2 linked regions of the Homo sapiens genome follow. The protein of the gene in region 2 purifies or fractionates together with the protein of the main gene of each other region. This does not show direct contact. Each region holds a gene or a part of one and is shown on either strand. Other genes may lie near its edges.

The links.
Region 1: the proteins of KIF9 (region 2) and MINDY3 purify together in Homo sapiens (affinity purification with mass spectrometry; one large-scale study listed by BioGRID and IntAct). This does not show direct contact.

Annotation. Positions count from the first base shown.
Region 1 is NC_000010.11:15,777,528-15,780,693, forward strand, and holds the end of MINDY3 (ubiquitin carboxyl-terminal hydrolase MINDY-3), read right to left. Parts: exon of another isoform or gene 2,322-3,166; intron 1,615-2,321; coding exon 1,465-1,614; 3' UTR 647-1,464; downstream 1-646. UniProt on the Homo sapiens protein: Hydrolase that can remove 'Lys-48'-linked conjugated ubiquitin from proteins.
Region 2 is NC_000003.12:47,276,170-47,280,001, reverse strand, and holds part of KIF9 (kinesin-like protein KIF9), read left to right. Parts: intron 1-2,622; coding exon of another isoform or gene 2,623-2,627; coding exon 2,628-2,720; intron 2,721-3,832. UniProt on the Homo sapiens protein: Essential for normal male fertility and for progressive motility of spermatozoa.

The sequences.
Region 1 (3,166 bases), on a different chromosome or scaffold from region 2:
TAAACCAGAGTTTTGAGAAACTAATTCTAGCATTATATATTTTATACAGATTTGGAAGTAGCCTAGACCAAAATATTGACATTTGAAAGCTGTAAGTTTAATAAGTAGTATCATACTCCTGAACAGAATGTCACCAAAAGTTATACACAAAATCTCATGCCTTTCCCTATGCTTAATTATATTGTAATTGTGTGTGTGTACGAAAGAAAACAAAACCCAAACAGAAATTCACACAGGAACTATACTATTGAAGGTAATGTTCAGTTCTGAAATGTGTAAGAGGATACTACATAATTATCTGCTTTACACGTGGCTTTACACGTGGAGGAAAAAAAGTATTAATGGCTATGTGATTTTAAATTGCTGGGCCACAAACCTATCAGAATACAGCAGATCTCTCTCTCAAGTAAACGGGCTTCTGCATCTTTGCTCACTGGTCTAGAAAGCTGCCATGTGGGTTCTCATGCTTCTGGCTGGCTGAGTTAGCAGAGCTCTTAGGTTAGCATAAGGCCTGGTCTCTTATTCGAGGTCCTGTATGACTTAGCCATTTGTAGTACTCTGTGCTCTCAGGGTTATTGGGTAGAAACATTTAGAAGTACGTATTTGTTTATTTTGAGCCACCAATGTAAAAAATGCAAGGGTACAGTTAAAGAAAAAGGTGTTTATTTAGGCCATCAACTAGGATCATAATAAATAACGTAATATACTAATGTAATAACAGATCTTCTCATGCATTTATCGTGTTTATAAATATAGAAGAAAGCTGGCTTACAGGGCTGTTGGGACAAATTTGGAAAAGTGTATTTGGCAATTACACAGTAAAAGTTAACAGTGTTGACTATCAGATTCTCTTTTCTGTCAGTTTTTAGAATACATCCCCTATACATCTGTGAATAAATGGTAATGGTCTCTTAGAGTTTCTACTTTTTGTGAACATGCCAGAGTTAAGTAAATTGTCAAAGGATCCAGGTTGACAATGTGTTATTTGTCAATATTTCTAATGAAAAACAGATCTTAGAAAAATGAACTCTTCTGCATTTCATTGTAGAGGCTGATATATTACAAGCCGGAATCATTCAAACAATAAAAAAAGTGCCTCAATGAAATAAAACCCAAAAGTAGTTTATCAATAGTAACTGTGATACTTAATATACAAATGCTGTAGTATTGCGTTTGTAATTTGGTAAGTAAATGACCAAGTATCTGAATGCAAAAGTGATGAACTTTGATGAAAGCTTAATTTTGCTAGTAAATTTCACACGAAGGGGTAAAATAGGATAATCTTTAACATAAAGCTTTAGGACAAATAATTTAAACATATCATAAACACTGAAAATGTGTTTTTAATTGTTATTTACAGTTAATCAGTGATACCAGTGTTTAGCTTAATCCAGCCAATTGCCAGTCTTGACTCCTTCTTTCAACATCTGTTATTAAGATCTTCCTTATAAATACTTAGACAAATTAATTTAGTGAAGGAGAGCGATCTGTGGTCCAGAGTAACTCAATGTATGGCCATTTGGTTTGCAGACAGCGTTTAATAGGAGTGTCATCTGTCTGTAGCATGGGATCTTCAAAACCCATCACAACTGCAGTCCCTTCTACGTACATGACCTGTTGAACAAAATAAAGCCACCAAGGTCAAGCAACAGTCTTAGCAAATTCTTATGTGGAATGAAAACAATTTTTAGAGGCTAGCAAATAAGGTATTACATAGTTTCAGATGAAACTTGACATGTAATTTTATTTTGCTAGAAATGAGAAGGAATATCTGCTTACTGATTAATGTGAAAGTAAATTTGTAAACGATATTTAATTGCTAGCTGGCCAGGTGATTTTTAAAAAATTCAAGATCATGTGAATCCTAAAACACATAGATTGTTTCTAAGAAAAAAAACATTCTTCAACGGATCTATACCATCGGAAAGAAATGCTTAATTATCATATTTACATATAATTTATACAGGTCCTACTGCTTTAATACTGAGGTTCTCAGATGCTCATGCTGCCTAATGAAACGGAGAGCTATAAAAGGAATATAGCTATTATGTTCTGAGGAACATGTGTCTCCTTCTAATTTAAGTATTGAATTTCTAGAGCTGAAACCAATTTGAATGTTTGTCAACAAAACTTGCTATTATGGTATTAAATATTCCTGAAATGCAATTCATGAGTGCATTCTGTACAGCATGAAAAATCATGGAGAAAAAAATTAAAAAGGATGTCAGGACAGAAAGAAAAGTAAAAGAGACGTTGAAAGATCAAACTAACCAGATACTGTATATGCAGTGGCAGTGATCACAGAAATATATACTGGCAGGTGAATAGCAAGAAAAATTTTATTCTGATTAATTTACAATGAAACATACTTAAAAAGTATTTTGGACATATCAACAAAAACCCTAACTCATTACCAAGGGCTCACTGTGGACATTAAGGCACTCCTTGGTGGTTAATTTCTTTTTTGTACCAAGAGAAATTCTGATGCTGTATAATTTAAAAGAAACAGATACAGACGACTGTCTTCTTCCAAAGTGTATAAAATTATTTTTACACATTCACTGGCTGATACACATGAGTGTAATTATGTTCTTCCAAAATAAAAGCCATAAGCTATTTAAGGAGCCAAAAGAAACAACTTTATTATCCTTAAATGGTAGTTGCCTCTAAAACACATTAAATATAGGAATAGAATATATTACTAGATCAGATAATCTTGTGTCATGAATCTACTCATTCCTAAGAAAGTGCTAAAGATACATTGTAACGTGAAATACATTTTTTGGCATCTTTATTTTAGTTAATATATTAGTTTCTAGTGTTGATGAAATAAATTGACATTGAAACTACAACTCGGGCTTTTCAGTCCCCAAAGCAAAACTGCCTTCTCTGAAAAGTTATACACAAAGAATATAATTCAAGTTATTAAGTTAAATACAATCGGCCCTATTTTTCACAAAGAACTTCATGTACTCATGTCATTAGAGCAGAAGTGCTTGGGCAAGGTGCCATGACCCACCTCCATGGCCTCAATCAGGCTCGGATGCCTGGCGGCTCAGACTCCATCTCACTTTGCCAGCATTCTCCTTTTGTCTGTTTCCTTTCTAACAGGACCTTGCTATGCAGCTTATAATTTTAGCTCCTGATTAACTTCAAAACATATTTC
Region 2 (3,832 bases):
CCCTGAGAGAGAGATCGAGACTCTGTCTGAAATAAATGTCTCAAAAATAATAAATAAATAAAATCTGGAATAACTTTTGTCAGGTAACACCCATTGGACCTCTCTTAGATAATTTTATATAAAATGATCCGCTGAGGTGGGCAGATCACGAGGTCAGGAGATCGAGACCATCCTGGCTAACACGGTGAAACCCCATCTCTACTAAAAATACAGAAAAATTAGCGGGGCTTGGTGGCGGGCGCCTGTAGTCCCAGCTACTCGGGAGGCTGAGGCAGGAGAATGGCGTGAACCTGGGGGGCGGAGCTTGCAGTGAGCTGAGATGGCGCCACTGCGCTCCAACCTGGGTGATAGAGCGAGACTCTGCCTCAAAAAAAAAAAATAAAATAAAATAAAATATTACCATTATTTAATGTACTTTTTAAAAAAGCAAGATAATCTAATTAAAAGTAGTCCCTGTTATACATGAGGGGTTTTTATGGTTAACATCTTAAAAGTTACTTAGATTTTTTGATTTTTTTTTTTTTTTGAGACTGAGCTTGCTCTGTCACCCAGGCTGGAGTGCAGTGGCATGACATTGGCTCACTGCAACCTCCACCCTCCAGATTCAAGCAATTCTCCTGTCTCAGCCTCCTGAGTAGCTGAGATTACAGGCGCTTGCCACTACACCCAGCTAATGTTTGTATTTTTTTTTAGTGGAAACAGGGTTTCGTCATGTTGGCCAGGCTGGTCTTGAACTCCTAACCTCAGGTAATCTGCCATCCTCAGCCTCCCAAAGTGCTGGGATTACAGGCAAGAGCCAACGCACTTGGCCCACGTTAGTTTTTTTTTTTTTTTTTTTTTTGAGATATGGTCTCACTCTGTCACCTAGGCTGGAGTGCAGTGGTATGATCAAAGCTAACTGCAGCCTCAGCTTCCCCAGGCTCAAGTGATTCTCCCACCTCAGCCTCCTGAGTAGCTGGGACTATAGGCATGCACCACCATGCTTGGTAATTTATTTATTTTATTTATTTATTCATTTATTTATTTTTTGGAGATGGAGTCCCTCTCTGTCGCCCAGGCTGAAGTGCAATGGCGCGATCTCAGCTCACTGCACCCTCCACGTCCCAGATTCAAGCGATTCTCCTGCCTCAGCCTTCTGAGTAGCTGGGATTACAGGCGTCTGCCACCACAACTAGCTAATTTTTGTATTTTTAGTAGAGATGGCATTTCACCATGTTGGCCAGGCTGGTCTTGAACTCCTGACCTCAGGTAATCCACCTGCCTCGGCCTCCCAAAGTGCTGGGATTACAGGCCTGAGCCACCGCACCTGGCTGCCTGGCTAATTTTTGTATTCTTTATAGAGATGGGTTTTCGCCATGTTGCCCAGGCTGGTTTCAAACTCCTGGCCTCAAGGGATCTGCCCACCTCGGCCTCCCAAAGTGCTAAGATTATGGTATGAGCCATTGCACCCAGCCAAAAGTTAGTTTTTTTTTAAAGCCAAGCCATGCGCCTGTAGTCTTAGCTACTTGGAAGGTTGAGATGGGAGAATCACTTGAGCTCAGAAGTTAAAGGCTAGCCTAGACAACATAAAGAAACCCTTGTCTCCAAAAATAAAACAATGAAATAAATGTTAATTTTTTAAAAAATATTGAACATCGGCTGGGTATGCCTGTAATCCCAGCACTTTGGAAGTCTAAGATAGGAGGATCACTTGAGGCTAGGAGTTCAAGACCAGCCTAGGCAACATAGTAAGACGCCATCTCTGCAAAAAAAATGTAAGAAAACTAGCCGGGCACAGTGGTACGCACCTGTAGTCCCAGCTACTGGGGAGGCTGAGGCAGGAGGATCACTTAAGCCTGGGAGGTCAAGGCTGCATTGAGCCATGATAGCACCACTGCACTCCAACCTGGGTGACAGGGTGAGACTCTGTCTCAAAAAAAAAAAATGTATGTATATATGTCCTATGTCTTCCTTTATTTATACTACTATATATATGTATATGCACACGCATACACACACACACACACACTGAAAGAAAATGATGAGAATATAGTTAGGTTTTAGGAGAGCAAGAGGAGGTAGGGGACTGTCTGTGATATTTTTTCTCAATATAGTAAGAGAAGAAAGAATATTTATTATGGACCAAATATACGTCTGGGTCATCTATTTCTGATCTAGTTAGTCTACTGGAGAAGAGGATGCTGTATCTGAAGCAAGATAAGTTAATGAAAAGAAAATTAGTTTTAATGTATTTCATAGTAAGTATTTTAGAAGAAAATATAATAAATGAAGGAAAGCATAAGTGGACTCATCATCTTAGTTGCAGAACATTTCTAGAAATGACATCTAAGATTAGGCCACTAAAGGAAGCATTCTTTTCACTTTGTATTTCAGTCTCTCTGGGGTCATTGGTGGAAAATGGCAAAGCAGTCTGTGAAGCAGAAAGTGCGTGTATTTGTTGAGCAGTGTCTTGTGGGTAGAACACTGAAATGCTGAGGGGTGAAAAGGAAAACTGGCTTTCAGGGAGAGAGGGAAAAATGGACTGCTCGTCACTCTTTTCTGATCTTCTTAATGAATGACCCCTCTCCTCTACTTGTTATTTGATAATGACTACTCAAAATTTCATTGTTCCCTTCTTTTTAGCTAGAATGGGTACTAGGAAAAAAGTTCATGCATTTGTCCGTGTCAAACCCACCGATGACTTTGCTCATGAAATGATCAGATACGGAGATGACAAAAGAGTAAGTGCGATGTGTTTGCCTTCAACTGACTGGGCCTCTCTGTCCCACCTTGCTATAGTGTGACCGTATTTCCAAGCAACCTTTGAAGGACCAAGACAGAATTGGACAGGATCCAATGGACTCTAGAGCCCATCAAATCCAAACCACCCCCTCACACACTGCTAATGAAGAAATTAATAAAATCCCATCGTTAATTGTCTTTTAATAATTTTACCTTTAATAAATTAATAAGTTTACCTTTACCCTCGTATCTGACACAGAAGAATTGACATTTGTTCACATTCATAAAGCTTTCTAATGATTGATCTGTCATTGTATAATCGCCCATGGGGTGCAGTAAGAATATCTTGAGTTCATTACTGTTTAGCTTATCAAAACAGCTGGAGAAATACTTATCAAGAGAAGTGGAAAGATATATCCGTCCCTATATCCTCACCCTGAGAATGCTTCTGAAGGCTTAGGACAGTGTAAGAGTGTTAGATATTTTCATTCAGCAAACAATTATGGGCCTACTCTGGGCAGCATTGAGACATTCTTCAAAGGAAAAATTCAAGGGCAAACTGCCCAAGCCTCGCAGGTCCTAGCGGTCAGAAAAGAGCTCACATGCAGCCCTATCAAATGTGTCCTGCTGGACATGGTTTTCAGCGAACACAGAAGCACAGAGCATTTAATGTGTGAGTGGACCAAGTCTTTCTTTCTTTCTTTTCTTTTTTTTTTTTTTTTTTTGAGACAGAGTCCCACTCTGTTGCCCAGGCTGGAGTACAGTGGCACAATCTTGGCTCACTGCAACCTCCGCCTCCCAGGTTCAAGCGATCGTCCTGCCTCAGCCCTGCTAGTAGCTGGGATTACAGGCACGTGCCACCATGCCTGGCTAATTTTTGTATTTTTAGTAGAGACGGGGTTTTGCCATGTTGGCCAGGCTGGTCTGGAACTCCTGACCTCAGGTGATCTACCTGCCACGGCCTCCCAAAGTGCTGGGATTACAGGCGTGAGCCACCATGCCCGGCCAAGTCTGTCTTTCTTCATCTTAATTTTTCTCTCTGTAGCCAGGTATAGCTCCTGCATTAGGGCAGTCAGTGTAAGATTTCAGCAAGAGTCTTTACATCAGAAGT